Regions from separate parts of the Homo sapiens genome. Here all the other regions are linked to region 1. Evidence: fine-mapped expression QTL. A gene starts in region 1. Each other region holds a variant in brackets. All regions are shown on one strand. Distances are from middle to middle.

What was found. PIP is the estimated chance that this variant, and not a neighbour inherited with it, causes the effect.
Region 2: its variant is fine-mapped to the expression of GRTP1 in monocytes after Pam3CSK4 (Quach 2016, PIP 0.95). The same link has a PIP of 0.9 or more in macrophages, monocytes, monocytes after LPS and monocytes after R848.
Region 3: its variant is fine-mapped to the expression of GRTP1 in atrial appendage (GTEx, PIP 0.97).
Region 4: its variant is fine-mapped to the expression of GRTP1 in lung (TOPMed, PIP above 0.99).

The regions. Positions count from the first base shown.
Region 1 is chr13:113,359,678-113,367,353 of GRCh38, reverse strand. GRTP1 (growth hormone regulated TBC protein 1) reads left to right here and starts at 3,224. Exons shown (of 8, transcript NM_024719.4): 1 at 3,224-3,334; 2 at 3,444-3,592. The coding sequence starts at 3,303. GRTP1-AS1 (GRTP1 antisense RNA 1) reads right to left here. Exons shown (of 2, transcript NR_120385.1): 2 at 5,486-5,795. RefSeq lists enhancers at 1-276, 971-1,664, 1,665-2,358 and a silencer at 3,346-3,640.
Region 2 is chr13:113,269,067-113,276,742 of GRCh38, reverse strand. It overlaps the pseudogene LDHBP1. Among named protein-coding and RNA genes, the nearest start is that of MIR8075, 10 kb to the right of the region's middle. RefSeq lists enhancers at 1,015-1,309, 2,262-2,761. The variant C/A (reference allele first, on the strand shown) is at 3,850.
Region 3 is chr13:113,338,874-113,346,549 of GRCh38, reverse strand. GRTP1 (growth hormone regulated TBC protein 1) reads left to right here. Exons shown (of 8, transcript NM_024719.4): 5 at 1,591-1,687. It overlaps LOC124903217 (MAGE-like protein 2), which reads left to right. Exons shown (of 2, transcript XM_047430838.1): 2 at 1-1,584. The coding sequence ends at 680. Among named protein-coding and RNA genes, the nearest start is that of GRTP1-AS1, 9.0 kb to the left of the region's middle. The variant G/A (reference allele first, on the strand shown) is at 3,652.
Region 4 is chr13:113,389,229-113,396,904 of GRCh38, reverse strand. No RefSeq gene overlaps it. Among named protein-coding and RNA genes, the nearest start is that of GRTP1, 29 kb to the right of the region's middle. RefSeq lists silencers at 2,514-2,623, 2,634-2,983 and an enhancer at 2,901-3,442. The variant A/G (reference allele first, on the strand shown) is at 3,140.

The DNA of each region.
Region 1 (7,676 bases):
GCAGCACCAGGACCCACAGGTCTCTGGCAAGACCTGTCCTCCCCTCAGGGCTAGAGTCGCACTGCACTGGAATTTCCTGCAGTGAGATTTGGGTGACCCTCCCCACTCCCAGTTGCCCGTCTCCTGTAACCAGGCAGCATGTGGTCAATTGACTGGCTTCAGCCTCCAGGACAGCCTGGAGCTCCGTGGGGTTTGGCACATGCTGTGGCTCCACGAAGATGCCCACGTCATGGTTCATCACTGCTCGGTGGGTTCTGCTGCCGTTATCTTTGTCCTCTGTACTCACATCCCATTTTCTCAGGTCCTCCCGGCCTTGGGGATGCTAGACGTTCCTTCTATCTTGATGGGCACCCCAGAACTGAAGTACTCCTGAAGCCCTTCTAACTTCCAAAGGGCAGCAGCTTCTACAAAAAAAGCAACAAGGGCCAGGCACAGTGGCTCGCGCCTGTAATCCCAGCACTTTGGGAGGCCAAGGTGGGCGGATCACCTGAGGTCGGGAGTTCGAAAACAGCCTGGCCAACATGGAGAAACCCCCGTCTCTACTAAAAATACAAAATTAGTTGGGCGTAGTGGCGCATGCCTGTAATCCCAGCTACTTGGGATGCTGAGGCAGGAGAATCGCTTGAACCCAGGAGGCGGAGGTTGCAGTGAGCCGAGATTGAGCTATTGCACTCCAGCCTGGGCAACAAGAGTGAAACTCCGACTCAAAAAAAAAAAAAAAAAAAAGCAACAAGACGGCTGAATTCCTGAAGGGAGGAGGGGCATCATGGGTGGTGACCCCACAGAGGCCCCCTGGTGTGGCCCCTGAGGCCCCTCAGACTGAAGAGGGCCTCCTGCAAGGGAGCTGGGTCCCCCGGGGGAGGGTGAATTCTGAGTCCCTGAACTGCAGGGCAAGCTGACCCAGAGCTCCAGCACTGCAAAGCCTCCCCCGGAAAGGGCTGTCTGGAGCGGCTGTGGCCAGCACAGTCACTCCTGGGGTGGGTGTGCACCTGGCTTTTGCATCATGGCTGACTGTGCTGGTGGCTTCACAGAAAGGGAGTTTGTGTGAGGATGCTCGGGTGCCTGCTGGGTGCTTGGCACTGGGGTCGGGGGGGCGGTGAATGGAGGCACCTGAGGGACACAGTCCCAGGTGGGAGCTGTCCCAGGTGGGAGCTGTTCCAGATAGGAGCTGCTGTCTCCCAGTCAGGTCCCAGGTTGGGGCTTGGCCAGGCCTGGGCTGGAGCGGGAGACCTTTCTAGCTGCCTCGGTCTGGCTGCCCACCCTGCACAGAGCCTGGGGCTCTGGCCTCTCTGTATCTCTCCTCTCCACTCTTCCTGGAGGGCACCGCTCTTATCTGACCTGCTCCCCCACAGTCTCCCTACATCTGGCCCAAAAATACACTTGGTGGCAGTCCCGCCATCACACTCAGGCTCGGGAGCTGGCGGCCCCTGGTCCGTGCTGCCTGCCACGCTGCTTTCCACGGCAGTGGTGGGAAAGGGAGGTTAGAACCCCATCTCCATGGCCAGAAGGCAGGAATTAGGGAAAAGGGGAGCCGTGAGGCTTCCAGGCCTGGGGTTGGAACAGAAGCTGCGCGGTGTGGGGCGATTTGGGCGCAGGACCCCGGGTGCTGGGAAGTGGGGAGCAGGACTGTGTCTGTTGCTCCAGAAAGCGCGAGGGATGCGATATAGGAAATTCGGGCGTCAGTTAGAGCCCGAGAGGGGTTCAGGGAGTCACTGACTTAGGCAGAGAGGAGCCCAGACGGGGTTCGAAGACCCTGGGGACGGACGCCCACCTGTCAGTCCTGGACTGTGGGGCACCCGTAGGCCGAGGGGCAGGAGGCTATGGCCCTGTCTCCTGGCTTGGGTCTAAACATCCCAAGGAGGTCAGACCGTAGAGTGGGGGCTGTGTGATCTTTCAAATGAGGGACGCCGCGTGTTACCAAAGGCCAGTGCTGAGGAGCTGGGCTGAAAGCTTGGGGAGTTCCCAGAACCAGCAGACTAGGAACGGGAGGAACCGTGTCGGGGGCTCTGCTCCGCTGGGCACTGACCCCCACCCCGCCCCCCGGTCTTGCAAGGGCTGGAGAAGGGTGAAAGGCAGAGGCGGGAGTCCGCACTTAGGGACCGGTCCGTTCCACACGCTGCTGACCAGGCTCCTGGGTGGCGCTCGCATGGAACATTCCGGAAACACCCATGGGAAGGTCCCAAGTTGGTTCCGAAAGGCCCTGACGGACGCGCAGGGGACGCTGAGCCTGTGATCCTCGCCTCACCCAGACGAGGCCGGGCTGCTTCTCACAGGAAAGTGCGTCTGGAGTCCGGGGACGGCCTCCTCCTGGGGCCTGTCCAGGTCGCCCTGGGCCTAAATTACAGGCGGGGAGAGGCCTGTCGGAGGAGCCCCCGCTCCAGACCCCTGGGGGACCCAGGGCGAGGTCGCCCCAGCGCCTCACGTCTGGGGGCTCCCCTTTGCCACGTCGCCAGAGCAAAATTCAAAATCTGCAGTTCTGGCAAATTTCCGGGGCCTCCCGGACACGAAAAGCAGCTGAAATCTCAGGACAATGTCATTGGATGCGGACCGAGAAGAAGCCGTTCGGAACCAGAGCTGCCCCGGATTCTCCCAGGCCTGGCTCGCCGGTGGGGGGACCCCGGTCCCTGGTTTGGGGGGGCAGGAACGGGCGGGCGCCCCTGGGGGCTTCTCATTTGTGTGTTGGTCTCGGCCTTGAAATGCAGCGGAGAAAATAAAAAATAAAATAAAAATAGGAGTCAGGTGTCAGAGTCGGGTCGGCCAGGCACTGAGGTTTGAAGGAATCGCAGAAGAAGCTCCTCTCACCCGGGTCCAGGCCGCGGGGGTTCTGCGGGAGGCGCCCCCGATTCTGCCCGCGGGACGCCGCGGCCTCGGAAGCCCCGGGAGCAGGCCCCGCCCCGCCCCCACCCTCCTCTCTCCCCAAGTCCTCCCGCCCCCCCAGCCCCGCCCCTCCCCCGCCCTGGGTGCTCCCCTGCCCCTCCCCCGGCCCTCCCCCGCCCCTCACCCGCTCCTGCCCCTCCTCTCTCCCCAGGTCCTCCCGCCCCCAGCCCCGCCCCTCCCCCGCCCTGGGTGCTCCCCTGCCCCTCCCCCGCTCCTGCCCCTCCTCTCTCCCCAAGTCCTCCCCGCCCCCAGCCGCCCCTCCCCCCGCCCTGCCCCCCCCCGCCCCCGCCTCCAGCCCCGCCCCTCTCCGCTCCCCGCCCCGCCCCCACGCGCCCGCGGTCCCGCCGGAAGGACTTAAGCGCCCCGGAGCCGGGAGGCGAACTTGGGACCCGCTGGCCTCGCTCGGTGCGCGCCTCCCTCCCCGCATGCAGCCCGCCGAGCGCTCGCGGGTCCCCAGGTGTGTGGCGCGGGGTGCGGGCGTCCCCGGCGGCTGCGGTCCCCGCGCGGGCCCGCGACCCCCCAGAGGAAACTTCGGGGACGCCGGCCTCCTTCTCTCGGTTTTGCAGGATCGACCCGTACGGATTCGAGCGGCCTGAGGACTTCGACGACGCCGCCTACGAGAAGTTTTTCTCCAGCTACCTGGTCACGCTCACCCGCAGGGCGATCAAATGGTCCCGGCTGCTGCAGGGCGGGGGCGTCCCCAGGAGCCGGACAGGTGGGTCCCGGGGGCGCAGGTGGGTCCCGAGGGCGCAGGTGGGTTGGGCTGGGACGGGCCGGGCAAAGTCCGGGCTCCCGGAGCGGAGGGAGGGGGAGGAACCTTTCCGGGCAGGTCGGGACGAAGCTGCGGGCTCCGAGCTAGGGCAGCCGCAGGGACCGGTTTTCCCGCTTTGAGATGGGCCGGCGGGTCGGACGCGAAGGAGACCCGTCCCTCCCAGCAGGGAGCCATATCGGGATGGATCAAAACTCGATCCATGCCGGGCGCGGTGGCTCACGCCTGTAATCCCAGCGCTTTGGGAGGCCGAGGCGGGCGGATCACGAGGTCAGGAGTTTGAGACCAGCCTGACCAACATGGTGAAACCCCGTCTCTACTAAAAATACAAAATTAGCCGGGCGTGGTGGCTCCTGCCTGTAGTCCCAGCTACTCTGGAGGCTGAGGCAGGAGAATCGCTTGAACCCAGTAGGCGGAGGTTGCAGTGAGCCGAGATTGCGCCATTGCACTCCAGCCTGGGCGACAGAGCGAGACTCCGTCCTTGTGACGGGACCCACAGGGCCCTGCTCGACCTGCCGCTCCTCCGCGACCCCAGGCCTCCTACTGCTGCGGTGAGCACCGGCCTGACCGCCCGCCCGCCTCGGGGTTAGCTGCAGGGCCCCCTCCTCCGGGGCGCCCCAGGCTTCCCTGTGCGGAGGGCACCTCCTCATTTCTGCCTTTCCCAGCACAGCCCCTGCTGGAGTCAAAAACCCTTCCTCCCTGCAACGGATTTTTCATTCACTGCTCAGTCCTCAGAACCTGGGGCAGTGCCAGGCGACTTCCCTGTGTGTTCAGTGAATGAATGAAGTGTCTGCCTGGGGTGAGGGCTTGGTGGGAGTGTGCCCTGGAGCTAGGAACTCAGAGAAGTGGGGTCAAAGGGGAGTCCTGGGGGCTTCCTGAGAAGGGGGATGTGAATGGCAGCTGGGCTTCCAGGGACCGAGCAGTAGGGACCTGGTGGGGAAGGACAGAGATGAAACCAGGGGCCCTGCACCTGGGCGGAGGGTCGGAGGTGTGTGGTGACCACGGCCAGGCACAGAGAAGCCAACTGTTAAAGGTTTTCCAGGCAGGGGGTGACAAGATCAACTTTTGCTTTTATTTATTTATTTGAGACAGGGTATCCCTCTGAGTGCAGTGGCACAATCACCACTCACTGTAGCCTTGACCTCCTGGGCTCCAGCCATCCTCCCCTCTCAGCCTCCCGCATAGCTGGGACCACTGGTGTGGCCACCACTCCTGGCTAATTTTTAAATTTTTTATAGAGATGGAAGTTAATATCCTATATGCTTCCCACGAATGCATCATGTCCCATCCCTGTGGCCTCTGCATGTTCACATGTTTCCAGTGGAACGTGTGTCTTTATTTTTCCTTTTCATTTATTCTTTTTGATTTATTTATTTTTGAGACAGAGTCTCACTCTGTCGCCCAGGCTGGAGTGCAGTGGTGCGATCTCAGCTGACTGCAACCTCCACCTCCTGGGTTCAAGTGATTCTCCTGCCTCAGCCTCCTGAGTAGCTGGGATTACAGGTGCACACCACTACACCTGGCTAATTTATTTTTTATTTTCTTATTTTTTTTATTTTGAGACGGAGTCTCACTCTGTCGCCCAGGCTAGAGTGCAGTGGCATGATTTCAGCTCATTGCAACCTCTGCCTCCTGGGTTCAAGCGATTTTCCTGCCTCAGCCTCCCAAGTAGCTGGGATTACAGGCACCTACCACCACGCCAGGCTAATTTTTCTATTTTTTAGTAGAGATGGGTTTTACCATATTGGCCAGGCTGGTCTCAAACTCCTGACCTCAAGGGATCTGCCCACGTTGGCCTCCCAAAATGCTGGGATTACAGGCATGAGCCACTGCGCCTGATTTATTCTTAAAAGTTAACTGTCTTTTAATTTTAAAAAGTAACGTAAAAGTATATAAGACATGTGAACTTAAAAAGCATAATTTATGTACATGGTAAACACTTTAATCATACTGAGGGCTACAAAGTGCAACAGGGAGTTTCTCTCCCACCCATGGCCCCCATCTCCTATAGAGATGACCGCAGGGGACTGTCCTTCCGTCCCCCTCAGGAGCAGAAGTCCACGCTTGGTTCTGCAGTTTGCTTTAAGAGCAGGGGAAGTCCGTGGGAAGTCCTGTGGCTGTGACCTGGAGGTTGGTTACAGCGGAGAATCTGAAAGATGTATGGTTGTGCATAAATTTTTGTTTTTACAGAAAACACAACTGCACAGTCATTCTCCCGTCTTTGCCTTTGCCATTTGGGTCTGTCCTATTGCTGTCCTTTTCTTCGACCAGGAGCTGCTAACTTGGGTTCCATATTTTCCTTTTTAGGGAACCACTCAGCACATTGCCCCCACTTTCCAATATGGACTTGGGAGGGGGTTCTGGGAAGAGCAGGGAAAAGGAAAAGAGCAATCCGGATGCAAAATCCTCCAGATTTTTATTCTTTTCCCCACTCCTTTGCAATTATTTTACACCTAAGTCAACAGTTTTGTTTTTGCTTTTTTTTTTTTTTTTTTTTAGCATTGGTCTCTATCAACTCTTTCTAAAAATTTCATTTTGTTTTTATTGAAGTAACAACTTTCTTCTTTTTGCTTTAATTTTTTTTTTTTTTTTTTTTTTGAGTCAAAGTCTAGCTCTGTCAGCCTGGCTGGAGGGTAGTGGCGCAATCTCGGCTCACTGCAACCTCTGCCTCCCAGGTTCAAGCAATTCTCCTGCCTCAGCCTCCTGAGTAACTGGGATTACAGGCACTCGCCACCATGCCCGGCTAATTTTTGTGTTTTTAGGAGAGATGGGTTTTGCCTTGTTGGCCAGGCTGGTCTCGAACTCCTGAGCTCCAGTGATCCGCCCACCTCAGCCTCCCAAAATGCTGGGATGACAGGCGTGAGCCACCATGCTGGGCTAATTTATGTAATGTTAAGTGGACCATGTAATTATGGTAGCAAGCATCACTGGCATAAATGGGTCTGTGAGCAAATATATCTCTTTGATCCTATATGAGCCTCAGCCTGAGGGGTGGGAGCCACAGGGCTGTGGGCCTGTTCTGCAGGGAGTAGGGATGCTGGTGACTCCGGTGGGAGGCACATGGAGTCAGTGATCGCGTGTCTCTACTGGCCTGGGGCCTGGGTCCCAGTGTGACCGTCAGGGTGCCCATGAGCACTGGCAAAGCCCCAAGAGCAGAGGGTCGGGTATAAAACTGGAGTGGACGAGTTATTCCAAAAATGGGAATACCACTTCTTCCTGCCAGGTATTCCAGGCTGACAGTGATAGAGTTCTTTCCTCTCCTTTTGGAGGGTTTTCATCTGCACTCCCCATGTTAAAGTCTCCAGGAACACAATCATCTACCAATCTCAGCATTCCACATGTCTTAAGGGACAGTTATTATGTATTCTGCCTGATCACACTCTTGGTGGGTACAATAAATATTGTATTTTCCTTTTTCCATAGCAAATATCCACCAGGAGCCCTTAGGAAGACAGCTTCCTCTTCCTCCCTGGAAAGACTAAATTCAACAAACTTAGTCCTGTTGGATTCCTATTTCATTCTCCATCTCGAGAATAGACGTCTGCAGGGAAGCAGCTTCAGGGCCGTTGGCTTCTTTGAGACCTCCTTCCTGGTGGCTTAGAATATTAACACCACCTAAGTTAAATCGAGAAAACATATTTTCAAAGATACACCGAAAAACTGGGGATTTGCCTAACTTTGTCAGGGTAGACAGATGGACGTCAGTTCTCTGGATGTAGCTTCTTTTTAAAAATTTCCCAACTGTTTTGACTTGATATTTTATACTTCTCCAAACATTAGTGATGCTCTGTGCGTTAGCCCTGCCCTTGGGAAAGTGTCAGTCTGTGAGGACAAGTAAACAATTTTCTTTCTTCTATAAAGAAACAGTGTAAATCCAGATAACAAACTTATCAAAAAGTCGCAGAATTCTTTGTTCCGTGAAGCTTCCGGGTGTTGCTCCAACTGCCAGAGCTGCTCGGGGGCCTTGGGTGCAGGCTCGGTGCCTTCTGTTCACTTTACGATGAGGAAACCAAGGCACGCTCAGGGTCTG
Region 2 (7,676 bases), 91 kb after region 1:
GACCTTCCCAGAGGCAGAGAGCACGCGCCTCACCAGCTTCTCCAACACGCCCACAGTGATCTGCTTGTTTGGGACCTGTTGCCCCTTCTGCAGCTGGTGCAAGGAGTCTTTCCTTAAGAAATGCCCTTGTGCCCAGGAGAGAGTAGGCTCTGGAAACTGCTGTAACAGTTGTACAGAGAAGACAATGCCAGCTGCGTGCGTCTCGTGGTCTTTCTTCATCCTTTAACTCATCTGTGTCTTTATTAAAATGACTCTCTGGGCTGGGCATGGTGACGCACGCCTGTCGTCCCAGCAGTTCTGGAGGCTGAGGCAGAGGATCCACTTGAGCCCAGGAATTTGAGACCAGGCTGGGCAACACAGTGAGATGTCATCTCTACAAAATATAAACAATTGGCCAGTTGTGGTGGCGCACACTTGCTACTCAGAAGGCTGAGGTGGGAGGATTGCTGGAGCCTGGCAGATTGAAGCTGCAGTGAGCCGTGATTGTGCCACTGCACTCCAGCCTGGGTGACACAGTGAGATCCTCTCTCTTGAAATAACAGTGCCTTTGTAGTAGACAGCATATACTTTGGTCTTAATTTTCTATACAGCTTGAAAATCTTTGGCATTTAACTGGAGTGTTGTTTATGTCATTGTTACCAATAAATTAATGAGATGGTCAGGTTCAAGTCCACCCTCTTTCCATTTCCATTTGTCCTATCCGTTCTTTATTCCCTTTTAAAAGTGAATTTCCAGGCCAGGCGCGGTGGCTCACGCCTGTAATCCCAGCAATTTGGGAGGCAGAGGCAGGCAGATCACGAGGTCAAGAGTTCGAGACAAGCCTGGCCAACATGTTGAAACGCTGTCTCTACTAAAAATATAAAAATTAGCTGGGCATGATGGCGGGTACCTGTAGCCCAGCTACTCGGGATGCTGAGGCAGGAGAATTGCTTGAACCCAGGAGACAGAGGCTGCAGTGAGCCAAGATCACATGACTGCACTCCAGACTGGTGGCAGAGCAAGACTCCATCTGAAAAAAAAAAAAAAAAAGAATTTCCTGTCTGCCTTTTGTAAAACAAACATAAAATTCAAAGCCCCCTCAGACCATCTGAATGGACCGCTGTATCAGGGAGGGCATTTCCAAGGCTAACCTGAAGGGCTGGCTCCGGCCATGATGGGGGCAGGGGTCAGACATGACTCATGATACCGCCTTTTGGAATTATTGATAGAACAGACTCTTTAAGCCTCATGAGAATCTGTTCCCTCTGAAGCCTGCCACCTGGAGGCTGCATCTGCATGGTGAAAGTTTGGTCTCCACAGCCCCTTATTATAACCCAGACATTCCTTTCTGTTGATTCCAGGTCTTTAGATAATAACTCTTTCAACCAATTGCCAATCAGAAACATTTTAGATCTACCTATAACCTGGAAGCCTCCCACAGCCCCTGTTCCAGACCAAACTAACGTACATCTTACATGTATTTGATTGATGTCTCATGTCTCCCTAAAAATAAATTAGTCTGTGTCCTGACCACCCTGGGCACATGTTCTCAGGACCTCCTGAGGCTGCGTCATGAGCCATTGGTCACTCATACTTGGCTCAGAATAAATCTCTTCAAATATTTCACAGTTTGACTCTTTGTCAACACTTTGGATTGAGTGTTCTTTCAAATTATACTTTGTCTCCTCTGTTGGCTTGTTCTTTCTCTCTTTGCCTCTCTCTCTGGTATTGTTAGTGGCTGCCCCAGGGTTACCACACACATCTCTGGCTCATCACACTCACTAGACCATCTCCCCTTTCCCCCAGGGCTGTCACACACATCTCTGGCTCATCACACTCACTAGACCATCTCCCCTTTCCCCCAGGGCTGTCACACGCATCTCTAGCTCATCACACTCACCAGACCATTTCTTTCCCCATTCTTTGTGTCGTGTCATTCGTTTTACTTCTACATATGGTATTAATGCCAACATATATTATTTTTGCTTTCAACAGTTGTTTTTAAAGAAAATAATGATTGTGTAGCTAATTTGTGTGAGTGTCTACCCAAATGCTTGCAAGTGCGGGCGCTCCCCAGGCCTTCGGCAGACCCTGGCTTCTATCTGGCTTTGCTTTCCAGCAGCTGAAGCTCCTTCCTCCTGCACTTCTCCTACTAGAGGTCTCTGTCTGAAAAGGCATACTTTGCCTCCATTCAGAAATGTATGTTCACTGAATACAGACTTCCCAGCTGACAGTGTTTGCTTCAGCTCTTCACTAATGTTTCTGAAGATAAGCCACTTAGATTTGTATGGAACTGGGTTTTCCTGATGAAGAGGCACTGTGCTTGTGCGTGACTGTGACTCATTCCTCTTTGCTGGTGTGTAGTACGTGTCCTAAGCAGCTTTGTGTGTGTTCACTTGGAACCACCCCATGAGGTAAGTAGGATTATTATCTCCACTTATAAGAAAACCAAGGTTTAAAGAATTGCAGGAATTTGCTCAGGGGCACCTGGAGAGTGACAGATGGAGGACCTGGCAGAGGGGGGACCTGGCCAGTGTTAAAGCTTCTCTGCTGATCCCAGTGCCTTGAAGGTGCTGTTCATTCTGTGAAGAGTGGACTCCTGGCAGGCGTCCACTTCTCAGTACAATGCTCCCTCAACTTGTGCTGCAGTTGGCCTTGGTTCCTCCATCACGGACCACAGAAAGCCTTACCTCTGCTCGGCTGTCCGCCCCTCGGCTTCCTTAGGACCTCTGCCGGGGGAGCACACTGCGCGGGGATGTGGTTTCCCTGTTCTGTTCCCTGGGAGGAGCACGCTGCGCGGGGATGTGGTTTCCCCTGCTGTTTGGGAAACCTGCCCGCAGTTATTTCTCCTTTCCGTATGCTCAGATTCTCCCCTTTTCTCTCTTGCTTGCTCAGTTTGATGCTTGCTCAATTCTCATTACCCGAGAGCAGCTCTCCCTGGCCTCTGCCTTGCCTCCAGCTACATCTCGCCGCACCCACTACCCGTCGGGCCCAGCACACAAACTGAATGGCCCGAGATGCCACCGTGATGGTCTGTTTCTGATTCTCACCATACCTTAAAACTCCCTTCTTTTGTTCTGTCACACTCGTACTTCTCCCCATTCTTATCTTGCTGGTCTTTGTTCCTTCCACTGGCCCTGCTTCATTCACTCCTCAGTGTTTACTGAGCACTGTGCACCAGATGCTATAGACTTGGGGACAGGCTTGTGCCTAAAAACACGACTTCAGAAGCCTGACGAATGGGGGCCCAGATCACAACACACGTGCTTGAGCTTGAGACCTGTCTTAAAGAAAAAAAATTGACAACTCTCTGAGGCACTAGTTCAATTTTTTTCTTGACGGCATCTAGCGCTGTTGCCCAGGCTGGAGTGCAGTGGTGCCATCATGGCTCACTGCAGCCTTGACTTCCTGGGCTCAAGCAATCCTCCCACCTCTGCCTTCTGAGCAGCCAGGAGTATAGGCATGTGCCACCACACCTGGCTAATTTTTATATTTTTTTGTAGAGATGGGTTTTCACTATGTTGCCCAGGCTGGTCTTGAGCTCCTAGGCTCAAACAATCTGCCCACCTTGGCCTCCCAAAGGGCTGGGATTATAGGCTTGAGCCACCGCGCCCCACTGGTGTGTAATTTTAATCCTAACATCATTTGCCTGATGTGCAGGAAGTCAGTACACTGAGACACTGGGGATTGCAGCAGAGACGGAGCTTAACACCCAGAGGGGAACTGAACAAGAGACAGAGGAAGCCTTGAACGCGCCTCTCAGAGGAGTTTGGGGCTGGGGATTTTAAGGGTTTCGGAGTGGCCGAGGTGTGGGAGTTGCTGATGGGTTGAAGAGTGCAGGCTAAAATCATGGGATGGGGGGATGAAGAA[C/A]CTGCATTCTCATGCCGCCTCAGCGCCCTGTGGGAGCCTTTGACTGGTTGATGTCAGCTGTTCTGCTGGAATTGAGGATCTGAAAAACATATTAAGCAATGTTTAAAGCCTTATGGTTCTAACGTCAGTGGTCCTATCTATGAGAATAATGGGGGTGCAAATGATCAGTATCCAGGGCTACAAGACTTCCAGTTACAAGGAAGTGGGCCAAAGTGCAGCCTGATTCATGCTTAGTTATGACTCCATTTCTGCCCAGAACCCGGCGTGTAATTCCTGCTAACCCATTGAGGACAGTTTGAGGTTCAAGAAGATATTCTAGAAATAAAATAAAAACAATTTTTTATTAAAAAGAAAAATAAGAAATAATATAAAAACATAAAACAATCTTTTATTAAAAAGAAAACCAAGAAACAATAATCTGATAATAGAGGCCACCAAGAGAAAAGCTAACCAGAAACAAAGATGGACAGTGAACTATGAGTGGGGAGGGGTGAGGCCAGCCCTTCTTCTCATTAGACCTTCCAGTTGGTTTACTTAGAAAGATTAGTGCTAAGGAAAGTGACAGCAAAGAAGTTGAAGGGGAAGAGGCAATGTAGAATGTCAAAAAAGAACACTTCCTGGAACAGAAGTCCGGAGTCTTCCAGTCTGAAGGCTCAGTGGGTGGCTGGCAGAGGCCAAATGAAAGTGGACACACACCGAGACACTCTTGTGAGATACCAAAAGTCCAGGAACAGAAGATTCCAAAAGTGACATGAAAGAACTACAGGTTAGTTAACAAAATGGCATCAGACTTTAGAGCTAGAAAATAGAAGACTATGGCAGTGCAATCCCTTCAAAGTTCTGAGGGAAAGTGATTTTGAGCCTAGAGTTTTTATGTAGACCAACAATCAAACACAAGTGTAAAATAAAAACAGTCCAGCCAGGATTCAGGAAATTTGTCTCCCAGGCATTCTTTCTGAGAAGATCATTTAAGAATCTACCTAATGAGGCCCGGCACAGTGGCTCACGCCTATAATCAGCACTTTGGGAGGCCGAGGTGGGTGGATCACCTGAGGTCAGAAGTTCGAGACCAGCCTGGCTTTTTCTCTACTGAAAATACAAAAATTAGCTGGGCGTGGTGGCGTGTGCCTGTAATCCCAGCTACTCAGGAGGCTGAGGCAGGTTAGGAGTTTGAGACCAGCCTGGCTAAATGGCAACACCCCATGTCTACTGAAAATACAAAAATTAGCTGGGCGTGGTGGTGTACCTGTAATCCCAGTTACTTGGGAAGCTGAGGCAGGAGAATCGCTTGAACCCAAGAAGCAGAGATTGTAGTGAGCTGAGATCGTGCCACTGCACTCTCCAGCCTGGGCAACAGAGTGAGACTGTCTCAAAAAAAAAAAAAAAAAAAGAATCTACTTAATAAAACCAGAAGACAAGAAAAAGAGAAGACTGAGATCCAAGGAGTGGAACTACACAGGAATGCAGAGAAAATGGGTTCCAGGATCACAGCTATGCAGGGGCTCAAAAGCCAAATGATGTGGCCGGAAGTAGGGGTGCATCGAATTGTGCCTGGGAATGGCCAGGGCACTCTACTCTGGCCTGGGAAACACAGTGAGACCTCGTCTCTTAAAAAAAAAGAGGCAAATGATTCATTGTATTATTATTATTATTTGTATTTTTAGTAGAGATGGGGTTTAACTATGTTAGCCAGGATGGTCTCAATCTCCTGACCTCATGATCCGCCTGCCTCGGCCTCCCAAAGTGCTGGGATTACAGGCGTGAGCCACTGCGCCCAGCTGATTCATTGTATTATTTATATTATTTTTATTTATTAATTTATTTTTTGAGACAGGGTCTCACTCTGTCGCCCAGGCTGGAGTGCAGTGGTGCGATCATAGCTCACTGCAGCCTCAACTTCACAGGCTCAAGTGATCCTGCCACCTCAGCCTCCTGAGAAGCTGGGACTACAGGCAAGCACCAGCATGCCTGGCTAATTGTTAAATTTTTTTGTAGAGCTGAGGTCTGTTATCCAGGCTGGTCTCAAACTCCTGGCCTCCAGCAATCCTTCCACCTCAGCCTCCCAAAGTACTGGGATTATAGGTGTTAGCCACCATGCCTGGCCCATAGTTCAATTTAAAAAACTATTAGGCCAGGCGCGGTGGCTCACGCCTGTAATCCCAGTACTTTTGGAGGCCACGGCAGGCGGATCACAAGGTCAGGAGTTTGAAACCAGCCTGACCAATATGGTGAAACCCCATCTCTACTAAAAATACAAAAAAAATTAGCCAGGCGTGGTGGCACACGCTTGTAATCCCAGCTTCTCAGGAGGCTGAGGCAGGAGAATTGCTTGAACCCAGGAGGCTGAGGTTGCAGTGAGCCGAGATTGCGCCACTGCACTCCCGTCTCAAAACCAAAACCAAACTACTTATCCGAGGGCCAGGTGCCGTGGCTTACAGCTGTAATCCTGTCACTTTGGGAGGCTGAGGCGTGCAGATCACTTGAGGTCAGGAGTTTGAGACCAGCCTGGACAACAGTGAAACCCTGTCTCTACTAAAAATACAAAAATTAGCCAGGTGTGGTTGCACACACCTGTAATCTCAGCTACTCCAGAGGCTAAGGCAGGAGAATCACTTGAACCTGGGAAGCGGAGGTTGCAGTGAGCTGAGATTGCACCACTGTACCCGAGCCTGAATGACAGAGTGAGCCTCCATATAAAAAAAAAAACCACGAAAACCCCAAAACAACAAGAAAACCACTATTAGAGGATTCTGATAAATGATTTTTTTTTTTTTTTTGAGACAGAGTCTCGCTCTGTCACCCAGGCTGGAGTGCAATGGTGCAATCTCGGCTCACTGCAAGCTCATCCTCCTGGGTTCAAGCGATTCTCCTGCCTCAGCCTCCCAAGTAGCTGGGACTACAGGTACGAGCCACTACGCCCAGCTAATTTTTGTATTTTTTGTAGAGATGGGGTTTCACCATGTTGGACAGGCTGGTCTGGAATTCCTGACCTCATGATCCTCCTGCCTCGGCCTCCTAGTGTTGGGATTACAGGCTTGAGCCACCGTGACCAGCTCCGAAATGTGTGTTTTAAGAAAAAAATTGGGTTTATGCAAACTGTGATAAGGAAATTATCTTAGTGATAAGACAAAAGGCATCTTTTTTTTTTTTTTTTTTTGGTCATCAGTAGCAATTAAAAACTCCAGGAAAAAAAAAAGCTGGACAAAAATGCCATAGTGCAAATATAAAGCAAGTTAAAACATGACATACATTTTCAGCTTTAATGGAATGTGGAAAGAAATAGCTTGTCTTTGATGCTTAGAATATTCTTTGAGCTGCACAAACAAAGGATTACATTTCTCTTTTTTTTGAGACAGAGTCTCGCTCTGTCGCCCAGGCTGGAGTGCAGTGGTGCGATCTTGGCTCACTGCAAGCTCTGCCCCCCAGGTTCAAGTGATTTTCCTGCCTCAGCCTCCCGAGTAGCTGGGACTACAGGCGTGCGCCACCACGCCTGGCTAATTTTTTGTTTGGTAGAGACGGGTTTCACTGTGTTAGCCAGGATGGTCTTGATCTTCTGACCTCGTGATCCGCCGCCTCGGCCTCCCAAAGTGCTGGGATTACAGGTGTGAGCCACTGTGCCTGGCCTGCCAATACAGGAGGTTTTCATGAGAAACTGAGTATATTCATGGATCGAGAGAATAGGGTTTCAATATGTCCATTACAATTACAAAGGTAACCCATAAAATAACTGATGACAACAGTGGATTAGGTTGGGAGGAGAGCGGGCGGGGAAGTGCAATTACTTTGGGTTGGCTGATTCCTTGTGTTTTATGGTAAAGAAACAACAC
Region 3 (7,676 bases), 21 kb after region 1:
TGCCACAGAGGTCCTCCCGGGTCTGCTCTTTGCCACAGAGGTCCTCCCGGGTCCACTGTCAGGCACAGAGGTCCTCCCGGGTCTGCTCTTGTCCACAGAGGTCCTCCTGGGTCTGTTCTCGGCCACAGATGTCTTCCCAGGTCTGCTCAGCCACAGAGGTCCTCCCAGGTCCGCTCTCAGCCACAGAGGTCCTCCTGGGTCCGCTCTCGGCCACAGAGGTCCTCCCGGGTCTGCTCTCTGCCACAGAGGTCCTCCCAGATCCGCTCAGCCACAGAGGTCCTCCCGGATCTGCTCTCGGCCACAGAGGTCCTCCCGGGTCTGTTCTCAGCCACAGAGGTCCTCCCGGGTCTGCTCTCAGCCACAGAGGTCCTCCCGGGTCCACTGTCAGGCACAGAGGTCCTCCCGGGTCTGCTCTTGTCCACAGAGGTCCTCCCGGGTCTGTTCTCGGCCACAGATGTCTTCCCAGGTCTGCTCAGCCGCAGAGGTCCTCCCGGGTCTGCTCTCGGCCACAGATGTCTTCCCAGGTCTGCTCAGCCGCAGAGGTCCTCTCGGGTCCACTCTCGGCCACAAAAGTCCTCCTGGGTCTGCTTTTGGCCACAGAGGTCTTCCCAGCATTTCCGTCATCAGCTCGAAGCAGTCGGTTCTTCCCAGAGCTTCCATCGTCATCTTCTGGAACATGATCTTCTCTGCACTGGTTACTTTTGCTTTTTGAGTGAAACTCTTAGGGTCTGTTTTTAAGGGGAGGTCCAGGCCAAGGGACGTGTAAGGCTGCGTGCCCGTCCTCCAGTGCTTTGGCTCCGGGTGAACAGCGCCACATCCCTGTGTGACTGAAGCCGCCGCGCTGCTGCCAGCATCGCTCTCTGCAGCTGCCCCTCCGCACTTCCGATCACGTGAATTGATCTTGTGGGCTGGCAGAAGCTGGATTCTTTTCCCTTATTACTAGAGAAATACTTACTTTAGAAATTACAAATGAGTGACAAAGAAGAGAATTTCAGTCGTGTAAAACGCAGTCACCTGGAAATGGCGCTGACTCACGGCTGCGAAGCCCCCAGGGTCTGGGGCTGCCCTCGATGGAGAGGGTCACATACGTGATGTTGGAGGCAGCACCCGCCCTTTGGCAGGTGTGCACGTGGATTTCCCAAAAGGGTCTCCACCACGAAATTCTCCTAACACCCGCGTGTCAGCACATGTTCCTTACGGTTTTATAAAATGTGGTCATTGGTATAATTTTCTCTCTGGCAGAGAGTTTCATGCTGTTGATATATAGTAATTTCTTTAGAAAGCAATGGTAAGTTATGTTCTTTTATCACAAGGTTACCATTAGTGGAAGAGTCTTTGATTTTAGTATTCAGGATTTCTTTAAACTGTTTCCTTTTGCTTTTACTTTTCACGTAAGCTTGACTAAACACATTACTAGACGGTAGGTATTTAGTGACTCTAGAGTTCTACTAAAGGATCATTCTGCAATTATGCAGGTTTTAAGGAGAAGCAAGAGAAATGGAAACTGGGTAGTTTGTAGCCGAATGATTGCAGAATCAAATGGGGGCTTAAAACTCAATGTGAATTTGTTTCTCATTTTTCTAATTTCAGGGAATGAATTTTATAGCAGGATATCTGATTCTTATAACAAATAATGAAGAAGAATCTTTTTGGCTGTTAGATGCTCTTGTTGGAAGAATACTACCAGGTATGTTGAAAATTCCTGCGGTATGCCCGAACTGTCCTGTTTCTGGTGCTGCCAAAATGATTCCGCTGAGAAATCAAAATTTAATTAAAACATGGTTGAATTGTTTGGGAGATGAGGTTACAAACCGTTTTTTTTTTTTTTTTTTTTTTTGAGACGGAGTCTCGCTCTGATGCCCAGGCTGGAGTGCAGTGGTGTGATCTTGGCTGACTGGAACCTCTGCCTCCCGGGTTCAAGTGATTCTCCTGCCTCAGCCTCCCAAGTAGCTGGGATTGTAGGTGTGTGCCACCACACCCGGCTAATTTTGTATTTTTAGTAGAGATGGAGTTTCACCATGTTGGTCAGGCTGGTCTCAAACTTCTGACCTCAGGTGATCCACCCGCCTTGGCCTCCCAAAGTGCTGGGATTACAGGCATGAGCCACCATGCCTGGCCAAAAATCTTTTTGCAGTAAAAAAATTTCTTTGAAATTGAGTTGAAAAGGAGAAACCCATGTGAGTGGCCAGGGTCCGGCTGCAGCAACTGCTTGCTCCTGGGACGGCAGAGGGCCTTTTGCCGTCTCTTAGCCCTTGTGGGCAGCTGGGGCTGTGTGGTTGGCTCACCCCTTCCTCAGTTGGTAACTTCTGTGCCTATTGAGGGCCACGGTGTGGTTTGTATTGATCACAGAATCTCTGAGAGGCTATCTTGGTTTTATGTATGTATTTGTACTGAGTTTGTGAATACTAGTAAGAGCATAATAATTGCGCTATATATATCCATGGTTGCTTTTTAAGTAATTACTTACTTTTTAAGGTGAAAACCATTCTTTTCAAACCTTTCCACTTTTCTATTTATTAATGTTTAATTATTTAATAATTAAAGTGTATTTATTAGTGGATAAGTTATCCACGGGTTATGGTGAAGGCCAGTGCAGACGATGAGCTGCAGGCTCAAGTCACTTGGGAAGAGAAGCTGAGGATCAGTCGGGTGGGCAGGGCCTGGGGCTGAGACCACTCTGCCCTTCCCCAGCCTGGCTGTGGTGCTGGGTCAAGGGGGCTGCGTGCTCATCCTGCAGGGCAGAGGAGACGTGAGGGGCAGCCGGGCCAGTCCCCAGTGTTTGGAGCCTGGGGGTGTGTGGCTCCAGCTCCTGCCTGGTGAGCACACGGCATGTGTCAGTTTCCTGCTGAGCTGCGCTTGTCCTCAGAACAGCCACACCACACGGACACAGTCACCCACCCCATTTCCAGGGTGAGGACACCGAAGGCCGGGAGAATTTGCGTGCTGGCCTGACCACCGCTGTACATGGCAGAGCCTGGTTCAGATCCTGGCTGTGTGACTCACAGACCATAGTGTGTGTCCTCACGGATGGGGCAAAGCTCAAGTGCATCATTAAGGGCAGGGAGGAATCAGCGCCACCCTCAACCCAAGGGCGCAGAAATGAGGATGCCAGAGACCAGCCTGACGGAGCCGCCCCAGAGGAAGGGAACCCCACAGAGCTCCCGGGAGTGGGAAGAGCTGTTGACCCGGCTGGGGCCCAGGGACCCAGTGCAGCAGCAGCAGCAGCAGGCAGAACCTCGCAGGGCGGAAAGGATGCCGGCTGTCTCAGCTCAGTTCGGTGAACACCTGGACCAGGTGGAATGGTGAAATTAGAGGCAGATGGAGTTAGGAGACATCCAAATGTGGGATTGGTAGGACATGGAAACGGGCTCACAGCCTGCTTCGGTTATGTCTGAGTGCAAATCATGGCGAATCTTCACAGCCGTGGGCCATGCAGTTCTTTTCACCACATATTGTTGAAAACCTATCGTGTTCTGGGCGCCGTTCAGGGGTGTGGGAAACATCGGTGAGCACACACGAGTTCCTGTCTTTGTGGAGGGCAGACCTCAAGCAGCAGCAGGTGAGAGCTCAGGTCGGAGGGCTCAGCACCAACCTAGAGGGCAGGAGCAGGCCCCGCCGTGCTGGTGTGATGGACAGATGCGTTTTCAGTCC[G/A]TACGACGTCACTTCCGATATTCATTATGAGATTAAGTTGAACGAAACTGCAATGCAAATAGGTCTGGATTCAAAAAGAAAAGAAAGTACAAAAACTAAACTGTTAGGATCATGGGAGGAAAAGGGGGTTATTCCGATCCCGGCAGAGCTCTCCCAGCGGCAGAGAAAAGAGGCAAATATATGTCCTTCTCTAAGTTACAGTGACCGAAGTAGGTCGTTTCAGTGCCACAGTCATCCTGCTCTAAAATCCATCCTCGAAGTTATAGTTACCCAAACTAGGTCGTTTCAGTGCCACTGTTATCCTGCTCTTAATTGCTGCTTTTAAGTTATACAAGAAATACACAGATATATTCTCATTTCAGAAGTTCAAAAAATACAGTACTTTTTTTTTTTTGAGACTGAGTCTCGCTCTGTCGCCCAGGCTGGAGTGCAGTGGCACAATGGCTCACTGCAAGCTCCGCCTCCCAGGTTCACGCCATTCTCCTGCCTCAGCCTCCCGAGTAGCTGGGACTACAGGCGCCCGCCACTACGCCTGGCCAATTTTTTTTTGTATTTTTAGTAGAGATGGGGTTTCACCGTGTTAGCCAGGATGGTCTCGATCTCCTGACCTCGTGATCCGCCTGCCTCGGCCTCCCAACAGTACTTTTTATAGAATAAAAAGTGACAGCCAGGAGCCGTGGCTCACGCCTGTAATCCTAGCACTTTGCAAGACCGAGGCAGGCATTTAGGGGAGTTCAAGACCAGCCTGGCCAACATGGCAAAACCCCACCTCCACTAAAAATACAAAAATTAGACAGGTGTGGTGGCAGATGCCTGTAATCCCAGCTACTTAGGAGGCTGAGGCACAAGAATCAGCTTGAGGGAGGCTGAGGTTGCAGTGAGCTAGATCACACCACTACACTCCAGTGTGGGAAGACGGAGCGAGACTCCATCTCAAAAAAAAACAGGGCCGGGCAGAGTAGCTCACATATAATCCCAGCATCTGGGAGGCCACAAGGTGAGAGGATCACTTGAGCCCAGAAGTTCGAGACCAGCCTGGGCAATAAAGTGAGACCCCTCCCATCTCTAAAAATAAAAATTTAAACAAAAGTGACGACCCGCCTTCACTGGCACATCCCCATTTATCTCCTACTCAGAGGTAACTGTTATCATCAGTCTGATGTATGTATTTCCAGAGTTTTTATAGACCGATATAAACATACACATGAAGGACTGAAAATTAGCGACAGAAACAGAGAAACAGAAGAAAAGATAAACTCAGACAAAAATCTGGTTCTTTGGGAAAACTGATAAATAGACAAACCTCTGGTAAGACTGATAAGAAAAAAATGTAGCTGGGCACGGTGGCTCACGCCTGTAATCCCAGCACTTTGGGAGGCTGAGGCAAGAGGATCACCTGACGTCAGGAGTTCGAGACCAGCCTGACCAACATGGTGAAACCCCATCTCTACTAAAAATACAAAAATTAGCTGGGCGTGGTGGCGGGTGCCTGTAGTCCCAGCTACTTGGGAGGCTGAAGCAGGAGAATTGCTTGAACCCAGGGGACAGAGGTTGCAGAAAGCCGAGATCACACCACTGCACTCAGGCCTGGGCAACAGGACAAGACCCTGTCTCAAATAAATATATACAAACATACATACATACACACATACATAAAAGCACAGACACTGAAGAGAAATCTTTGTTGAGGTATAATCCACATATCCCACAGTTCCCCCATTTCAAGCGTATGGTGCAGTCGTGATTGGTGCATTCGTGAGTTTAGAACAGGCTGTAGTGAGCCAAGATCACACCACTGCACTCCAGCCTGGGCGACAGAGTGAGACTCTTATCTCAGAAAGAAAAAAAAAAAAGGATAAGATATAGTAGAAATGAAAAGGTGCTGTAATTTGAAGATTTGTAGAGATTTTTAAGAATCAAAAGAAAAAAATGAAGAGACAGAAATGGATAATTCTGAGAAAAAAACAGCCTAACGAAGTTGACTTGAGAGAGAAAATAGAACATCTGATGGGTGTGTGCATGGACACACTGGGTTTTTACTGCTATCAAACTGTGAAGGAACAGGTAACTCCTGCTTTTTAATGTTTTTATTTTATTGTTTTATTTATTTAATTTTTTCAAGACAGAGTCTCACTCTGTCGCCCAGGCTGGAGTGCAGTGGCGCAATCTCGGCTCACTGCAAGCTCCGCCTCCCGGGTTCACGCCATTCTCCTGCCTCAGCCTCCTGAGTAGCTGGGACTACAGGCGCCCGCCACCACGCCCGGCTAATTTTTGTATTTGTAGTAAGGACGGGGTTTCACCATGTTGGCCAGGCTGGTCTCAAACTCCTGACCTCAGGTGATCCGCCCACCTTGGCCTCCCAAAAGTGCTGGGATTACAGGCGTGAACTACAGCGCCTGGCCATTTTATTGTATTTTTTAGAGACAGGGTCTCAGTCTGTCACCCAGGCTGGAGTGCAGTGGTGTGATCATGGCTCACTGCAGCCTCGACCTCCTTAGCTCAAGTGATCCTCCCACCTCAGTCTTCTGAGTAGCTGGGACCACAGGTGGGCACCACCATGCCTAGTTGATTTTTTTTTTTTTATTTGTAGAGACAGGTTCTTGCTATGTTGCCCAGGCTGGCCTTGAACACCTGGCCTCAAGTAGTCCTCCTGCCTTGGCCTCACAAAGGGCTGTGATTAATTCCTGTTTTTTAAAAATAAATCTGTGGCTCATACCTGTAATCGTAGCACTTTGGGTGGTGCATGCCTGCGGTCCCAGCTACCCAGGAGGCTGAGGTGGGAGGATCACTTGAGCTAAGGAGGTCGAGGCTGCAGTGAGCTGTGGTAGTGCCACTGCACTGCAGCCTGGGTGACAGAGCAAGACCCTGTCTAAATAACTGATTAATTAATCAATCTTGCAGAAAATAAAAAAAAGAAACTCTCATCACTTCATGTTATGAAGCTAGTATAGCCTTCACACCATACAGACTAATCTCACTGATGAATAGAAGTATGTAATTGTTAATTATTAATGTTAGCAACTTGAATCTACAGGTGACTATGAAGTATTTTTTTAGTTTGAAGATAGTTTTTTCCAGAAATCCAAGGATGGCTTAATCATATGGAATAATCAAGGGCAAAGCCAAGCCAAGAAGGCTTGAAAGAAGAACACTAGAGATATATTATAATGCTCTAATAATTAAAATGGTGTGGTATTAGGTTATGAATGGATAAACAGACCAATGGAACAAAATTGCGAAGCCAGATAGAAATCAACCAGTCTGTGGATCTATTAATTTATGGGAATGTCTTTTGTGAGATATATCAATTAATGGGAAAAAGACTGTTTAAAACATAATTCAGTGACAGTTGACTGTATGGAAGAAAACAAAATTAAACCCTTATTTCATTTCCAGATGGATTTAAGACTCATGTAAAAAAGTAAAACTTTGAAACTCAGAGAACAAAATACAGAACAGTCGTGTCATGTGGGAGTAGGGGAGAAGTTCTTGAACATAATTCAAAAAGTATAAAAGGCATTGATAATTTTAATTACATGAAAATTTAAAAACTAATTTTGGTAAGAGACATCATAAGCAAAGTAAAAAGATAAGCTGCTGGTTTGAGAAAGTATCTTTGATCCATATAATTAACAAAGGGTTAGTGTCTGGACTGTGTGTGAATTTCTAAAAATCTAAGCAGAAAGCCAGGGTGTGGTGGCTCATGCCTGTAGTCCCAGCACTTTGGGAGGCTGAGGTGGGTGGATCACCTAAGGTCAGGAGTTCGAGACCAGCCTGGTCAACATGGTAAAACTCTGTCTCTACTAAAAATACAAAAATTAGCTGGGCATGGTGCAGTGCACCTGTAATCCCAGCTACTTGGGAGGCTGAGGCAGGAGAATCACTTAAACCTGGGAGGCAGAGGTTGCAGTGAGCCGAGACTGCACCATTGCACTCCAGCTTGGGCAACAAGAGTGAAGCTCCGTCTCAAAAAAAAAAAAAAAAAAAAAATCTAAGCAGAAAAAGAAACAGCTCAGCAGAACATC
Region 4 (7,676 bases), 30 kb before region 1:
CAATAATGATGATGATAAAATAATCAAGAAGCCGGGTGCGGTGGCAGCACCTGTGGTCCCAGCTACTCAGGAGGCTGAGGTGGGGGGATCACGTAAGCCTCGGAGTTTGAGGCCAGCCTAGAAACATAGCAAGATCTTGTATCTTAAAAAAAAATGAATAAAATGTTAAAAAATAAAACAAAATAAGAAACTGATGAAATTCTTGGACTTTGATAACGGCAGGAAGCCGCACACATACAGGAAGAACAAAGTCCAGAAAGAGCTGACGGTGGACGCCCAAGAGAAGAGGCGGCTTCTGCGAGCTCTGTGTCGTTAGGAAGGGAACTCGGCTTCATTTCAAATTCCAAAGGGGCTCAAACATATGAATAAGACCCCAGTCTTTCATGGGAGCCCCAAAAGTGGGGCTATTTTTCTACGTTTTGACAGCTCCCCACAACATGAATCCTGTCTTCTCTCTGCACGGCAGTCCCACATCCCACATCCCCAGCCTTCCTTGCTGCTGGGACGCATGCAGCTCTGCCAGGGAGACGCAACCTCCCCAGGCCGGCAGGGCACAGCAGGTTCTGGGCCCACGGTGAGGACGAGCCGGTGATATGGAGTCTCCTGGGTGTGCAGAGAAAGATGTTTCCAGGGAAGCTGAGAGAAGGAAGCTCATTAGCCAGTGCAGAGCTGGGCTTGGAGGCCTTTCCTCTAGTCCTGCAAGGAGCTGGGAGCTGTCACACTGCTCACCATGTCCCTTTCTGCTCAAATTCCCCAGGATGGATTCTGCCCCCTGCACTCAAGAAAACACAGGGGGCCGGGCGCGGTGGCTCACGCCTGTTATCCCAGCACTTTGGGAGGCCAAGAAAGGCGGATCACGAGGTCAGGAGATAGAGACCATCCTGGCTAACACGGTGAAACCCCGTCTCTACTAAAAATACAAAAAAATTAGCCGGGCGTGGTGGTGGGTGCCTGTGGTTCCGGCTACTCGGGAGGCTGAGGCAGGAGAATGGCGTGAACCTGGTAGGCGGAGCTTGCAGTGAGCCGAGATTGTGCCACTGCACTCCAGCCTGGACGACAGAGCAAGACTCCGTCTCAAAAAAAAAAAAAAAAAAAAAAAAAGAACACACAGGGGCGCCCCCATCAAAACCCACAGCAGACGTGCTGTATCGGACCACATACTGGAGCACACGGGGCTGTCCCCATCAACATCCACGGTGGACGTGCCGTATCGGACCACATACTGCGTGCGTGGTGGTCAAAGACATGAAGTTGAACTCTCATGGGTCTATCAAGTTGAGAACCAAAACCCCCAATTTTTAAAAGGAATCGGTAACACTCACTACCTCTGAGGATGTACGGAGACAGTCATTCCTGATGGGACCAAACATTGGCCCTTCCTTTTTATAAAGCAATTTGGCAATAATGTCAAGAACCTTTAGAAGGGGTGGCTCCTCAGCCCAGCAATTCCAGCTTTGAGAAACTGTATTTAGGAAAAGCAATCTGTCCAGCGTGGTACTACTCAAGATACAGCCATAAGTGACACAAATGTCCACCAATTAAGAGATTAGTTGGCCAGGCGCGGTGGCTCACGCCTGTAATCCCAGCACTTTGGGAGGCCGAGGCGGGCGGATCACGAAGTCAGGAGTTCAAGACCAGCCTGGCCAACACAGTGAAACCCCGTGTCTACTAAAAATACAAAAAATTAGCTGGGCGTGGTGGCGGGCACCTGTAATCCCAGCTACTAGGGAGGCTGAGGCAGGAGAATCGCTTGAACCCAGGAGGCGGAGGTTGCGGTGAGACGAGATCACACCATTGCACTCCAGCCTGGGCAACATTGCAAGACTCCCTCTCAAAAAAAAAAAAGAGATTAGTTAAATAAAGTGTGGTGTCTTATTCAGTGAAATAGCAGTCATTTAAAATTAGCTGAGGAAGAACTTTGTGAAATGGAAAATATTGTACCATTTAATGTTTAAAATCCAATATAAGGCCGGGCGCAGTGGCTCATGCCTGTAATCCCAGCACTTTGGGAGGCCAAGGAGGGTGGATCACCTGAGGTCAGGAGTTCGAGATCAGCCCGGCCAACATGGGGAAACCCCATCTCTACTAAAAATACAGAAATTAGCTGGACATGGTGGCGGCGGACGCCTGTAATCCCAGCTACTCAGGAGGCTGAGGCAGGAGAATCGCTTGAACCCAGGAGGCAGAGGTTACAGTGAGCCGAGATGGCGCCATTGCACTCCAGCCTGGGCAACAAGAGTGAAGCTACACCTCAAAAAGAAAAAAAAAATCCAGTATAAAATAGTAGATTCAAATATGTAAATACGTGTGAAGGGGGCAAAGAAAGAGAAACGCGAAAAAAGGTGAGCAGTGGTTATCCACGAACACCCGATGTGTAGGTGTGTTTTCCCGTCGTTATCTGTCACTGCTTTCTGCGTTAATTTAAATGCACTTGCATCACTTTCAGGATCAGAAAATAAAGGCCTATGTGTGACCCTGGGGCGCTGGCGGGGGCTGGACGGAGGCCCAATGCCCCTGTTGCCCATTGTCTCCAGGCTTCTCCAGGACTCGGCTTCCCGCCTCTCCTTTGGGGACCGCACGAGTCACTGGGGGAGGCTCCGCGGGCAGCAGGTCTCTGGGAGGGGTTGTCGCCCCCTCGGTGCGCAGGGGAGCGACGGGTCCCTCCTGCACCTGCAGGGACAGGCCTCGGGCTGCACCGTCCCGCGCCCGCCTACCCCGCGCCCGCCTCGCCGGACGCCTCCTGCCTGAGTCCGCCAGGGGGCGCTGCCGGCCTCCCGGGCGGCGGCTGCTGCAAGAGGAAGCCCCGGCCCGCGAGCTGCTGCCACATCCGGACGCCGCCGGGAGCCGCCGGGAGCCGCCGGGGTGGGCGGGAGTCGGGGCGGCGCGCAGGTTCCCGGCCCCCTAAGGGACGGTTGCCTTCCCCAGAGCCGGGGACACAGGCGTACGTGCGGGGACCTCGGCGCTGGCCTCCGGGCTTCTGGAGCCCCTCCCTGGTGCGGAGCGGGGACGGTGACCTCCTCGTGGATTCTGGGAGGGGCAGCCTTGGCATCAGGACCTGGAAGCCGGAGAGGCTGCAGGGCTTCCAGCCATGGCCTTGCCACCGGAGGTCACGTAGTGTTTCCACATTTCCTTAGTGTGT[A/G]CATGTGTGGGTCCCTGTGTTGTGGAGGGCTGTGTCTGCTTGGTGTGTGTGCACACGCGTGTGTGCATGGGTGGGTCCCTGTGTTGTGTAGGGGCCGTGTCTGCTTGGTGTGTGTGCACACGCGTGTGTGCATGGGTGGGTCCCTGTGTTGTGGAGGGCTGTGTCTGGGCAGGCTGTGTACACACCCATGTGCATGTGTGATGCGCACTGGGGCACTTGTCTGGGTAGTAGAGGTGGAGGCCTGTGTGGCCATATGTGCAACTGTGTGTCCGGGTGCGTGTACCACAGTCTTCCCTAAAATAGTAATACTGGGACCTACGTCATGGGGCTGTTGTGACCGCGTGTGGCACTCCATGTGGGGTGGCACAGCCAGGCGCTGATCCGGCCACTTTGCCAGTCGGACTGACTGCGTGTCCTCTCCTTAGGGGTGAGAAGCTTCCTGGCATCGGGCCTGGGCTCCTGAGCCCCTGAGCCAACCGACTGATGGTCCCTGGGAGACAGCCCCCGCCCTGCTCCTGCCCCCCACACCTGAAAGGCTCATTGTGTGGGTTTGCTGTGCTCCACAGGGATGTAAACCGCCCCTCCTTTTCCCTGTTCTGTCTGTGAGAAGGTGCCAGGGATACTTTTTTTTTTTTTTGAGACCAAGCTTCACTCTTATTGCCCAGGCTGGAGCGCAATGGCGCGATCTCGGCTCACTGCAACCTCCACCTCCCAGGTTCAAGCGATTCTCCTGCCTCAGCCTCCCGAGTAGCTGGGATTATAGGCATGTGCCACCACACCTGGCTAATTTTTTTTTTTCAGCAGAGATGGAGTTTTCTCCATGTTGGTCAGGCTGGTCTCGAACTCCTGACCTCAGGTGATCCGCCGGCCTCAGCGTCCCAAAGTTCTGGGATTGCAGGCGTGAGCCACCGTGCCCAGCCCGTTTTTTTTAAGAGTCGGGGTTTCACTTTATCGCCCAGACTGGAGTGCAGTGGTGCAATCATGGCTCACTGCAGCCTCAACCTCCTGGGCTCAAGCAATTCTCCCGCCTCAGCCTCCTGAGTAGCTGGGATCACAGGTATGCACTAATTTTTGTATTTTTTTGTAGAGACAGGGTCTTGCTATGTTGTCCAGGCTGGTCTTGAACTCCTGGGCTCAAGCAATCCTCCTACCTTAGCCTCCCAAAGTGCTGAGATTACAGGCGTGACCCACGGCCCCCAGCCAGGGATACTTATGGAGGTCCCTGGGCAGTTCAGGTAAAGAGGATCCCACTGCCAGGCACGGAGGCTCATGCCTGTAATCCCAGCATTTTGGGAGGCTAAGGCAGGAGGATGAGTTGCGCCCAGGAGGTTGAGGCTGCAGTGAGCCAAGATTGTACCACTGCACTCCAGTCTGGGCAACAGAGCAAGACCCTGTCTTAATAAAAGAAAAAAGAAAGAAAAAAAAAGGCCGGGCGCGGTAGCTCACACCTGTAATCCCAGCACTTTGGGAGGCTGAGGCGAGTGGATCGCTTGAGCTCAAAAGTTCAAAACCAGCCTGGCCAACATGGCAAAACCCCATCTCTACAAAAAGTTAGCTGGGCATGGTGGCAGGCACTTGTGGTCCCAGCTACTTGGGAGGCTGAGACAGGAGAATTGCTTGAACCCAGAAGGCAAAGCTGGCAGTGAGCTGAGATGGTGCCACTGCACACCGGCCTAGGCAACAGAGTGAGTGAGACTTCAACAGGATTCATGAGAAGAGTCTGTTTTTAAAGCACACCTTCCTCTTCTAGGACTTTGATAGAAGGAGGTTAAAGTGCTCTGTTTCTGTGTCTTCTGAGAGGGTGGCCGCTCCCAGGGCATACAGCCCTCACCATTTCCCCCTTTGATGGACAGAGATGAGTTTCTTCTTAGCAGACTTTGGCCCACCAAGCCAGAAATGTGTCCAAGAAAAGCTCAAGGAGGAAAGAGAGTCAACCAAATTCACTTTCGGAGCACCTCCCACAGTAGAGAGGTTACGCGGGCTACAAAATTGTATGAAAACCTCCCTACCCTGGAACTTGGGTGAAGCTTGAGGACACCATGCTGAGTGAAATTAGCCAGACACAGAAGGACAAATTCTGTGGGATCCCACTTACGTAAGGGTGACAAGAAGGAAGAGGCTGAGGTGCAAATTATGATTTAAAGAGTTGACTTGAGCCAAGGTGAGGACAGCTGCCTGGGAGACTCGAGTGGCCTTGGATATGAGCCCCATTAGGCCTTTATTACAATCAGGATTTTAAAGGCAAAAAGGGGAACAGGGAGTGGCTGATACAAAGTTGTTTTTCAGGAATTCTTGTTGGTTGACAGAAATAACATTGATTAGTGATGGGCTGTGCACCGTTGAGCTGCAGGGTGTGGGTTGCAGGGTGGGGGATGGCATTGTTAGGTTAATTCACAGCTAGCAAGTTCCAAGACATCAACACACAGCTCAATGTGTTGGAGGGAGATATCTGCAGTTGTTACCAGACAGGGGTCCCGATCCAGACCCCCAGAGGGCGTTCTTGGATCTCGCGCAAGAAAGAATTCAGAGCGAGTCCATAGAGACAAGTGAAACCAGTTTATTAAGAAAATAAAGAAATAAAGAATGGCTACTCCATAGGCGAGCAGCTGAGGGCTGCTGGTTGCCCATTTTTATGGTGATTTCTTGATGATATGCTAAACAAGGGGTGGATTATTCATGCTCCCCTTTTTAGACCATATAGGGTAACTTCCTGACGTTGCCATGGCATCTGTAAACTGTCACGGAGCTGGTGGGAGTGTAGCAGTGAGGATGACCAGAGGTCACTCTTGTGGCCATTTTGGTTTTGGTGGGTTTGGCCGGCTTCTTTGCTGCAACCTGTCTTATCAGCAAGGTCTTTATGATCTATATCTTGTGCCAATCTCCTATCTCATCCTGTGACTTAGAATGTCTCACTTCCTGGGAATGCCGTCCAATAGGTCTCAGCCTCATTTTACCCAGCTCCTACTCAAGATGGAGTTGCTCTGGTTCAAACATGCCTGACATTTTCTCTTTCCCTTTTATAAGAGAACCCTTAATCCTAAGAGTTGCAGGGGGATGAAGATCCATCTTCTGTAACTTCTTCAGGCTGAATAGGGGCGATGACATTCCTGCCTAACTATTAGGGTCCCTTGTGTTCAGGGTAGAGAGGAGCACAGTCAGAAGGCATCAGTGTGGTGAGGGCTATTCATAACTCTTAAGTTCCAACAAAAGGTGATATCTGGGCAATTAATAAGTGTTCAGTTTAAGAAAACATTGAGCAAGTTTATTTTGCATACCTACACAGAGTACAACAACAATATATTCCACAATAGTAAAGCAAAATAAGTACAATTATTCCAAGTAAACTAAATTAGAAGGCTTTTCATGAACTGGGCAACTATTGGAACCAAGATGATGTGAGGTTGCTAGCCAATTCTAGTGTGCCCAGAATTAGAATATTGATTCAGATTTTTACATTACCCATCCCTCTTATTTCTTCTGAGCAGCAGTCAGAGTTCACTGGTTGGTTCACAGGAATAAGCAAGGTTAGCCTAAATTCCAGAAGCAAATCTAAAAACAACTGATGAGACTAGAATTTAAAAACAACATACCACAGTTCCTGAAACATAATATTTCTCTCTCTAGTTTCCCATTTTTACTAAAGGCAAATCATGGTAAGACTGATTTACTTTATTATACTTGGCCTGATTATTTGTATAAAGGGCAGCAAGAATATTTTTCACATAGGTTCTTTTTAAATTGGCTTTGATGGAACTCTGTTCCGTAGAAGGAATCTTAGCTAAGACTCTTTTAGAACTGAGCCCCGCCATGGGTTTGTACCCTCAAATACCTGTAAGTTGAGTAAATTTCTCTCCTCTTGAGTTTCCAAGATAACTTGGGGCTCCTGGGCCTGTGAGAAAGTGACTTTTTTTTTTTTTGAGACCGAATCTCGCTCTGTTGCCCAGGCTGGAGTGCAGTGGCATGATCTCTGCTCACTGCAAGCTCCGCCCCCCCGGGTTCATGCCATTCTCCTGCCTCAGCCTCCTGAATAGGTGGGACTACAGGTGCCCGCCACCATGCCCCGCTAATTTTTTGTATTTTTAGTAGAGACAGGGTTTCACCATCTTAGCCAAGATGGTCTCAATCTCCTGACCTCATGATCCACCCGCCTCAGCCTCTCAAAGTGCTGGGATTACAGGCATGAGCCACCGCACCCAGCATAAAGTGACATTCTTTACTTACCACGGGTCAGGAACTCTGTATAAGGACTGTGGAGAGAACGTATCAGGTCAGTTTTCCCAAGGGGCTTTATCAGCTCTATAAGTCACGTTTAATTTCTTAAAGGAAAACACATCATTCTAGTCAAATCCTTGGTAAAATAAGCAGTTTCTCCAATTGTGTCCTGTTGCAAAAGAAAACAGATTCCTGGCCAGGCACAGTGGCTCACACCTGTAATCCCAGCGCTTTGGGAGGCCGAGGCAGGCAGACCACCTGAGGTCAAGAGTTCAAGACCAGCCTGGCCAACATGGTGAAACCTCATCTCTACTACAAATACAAA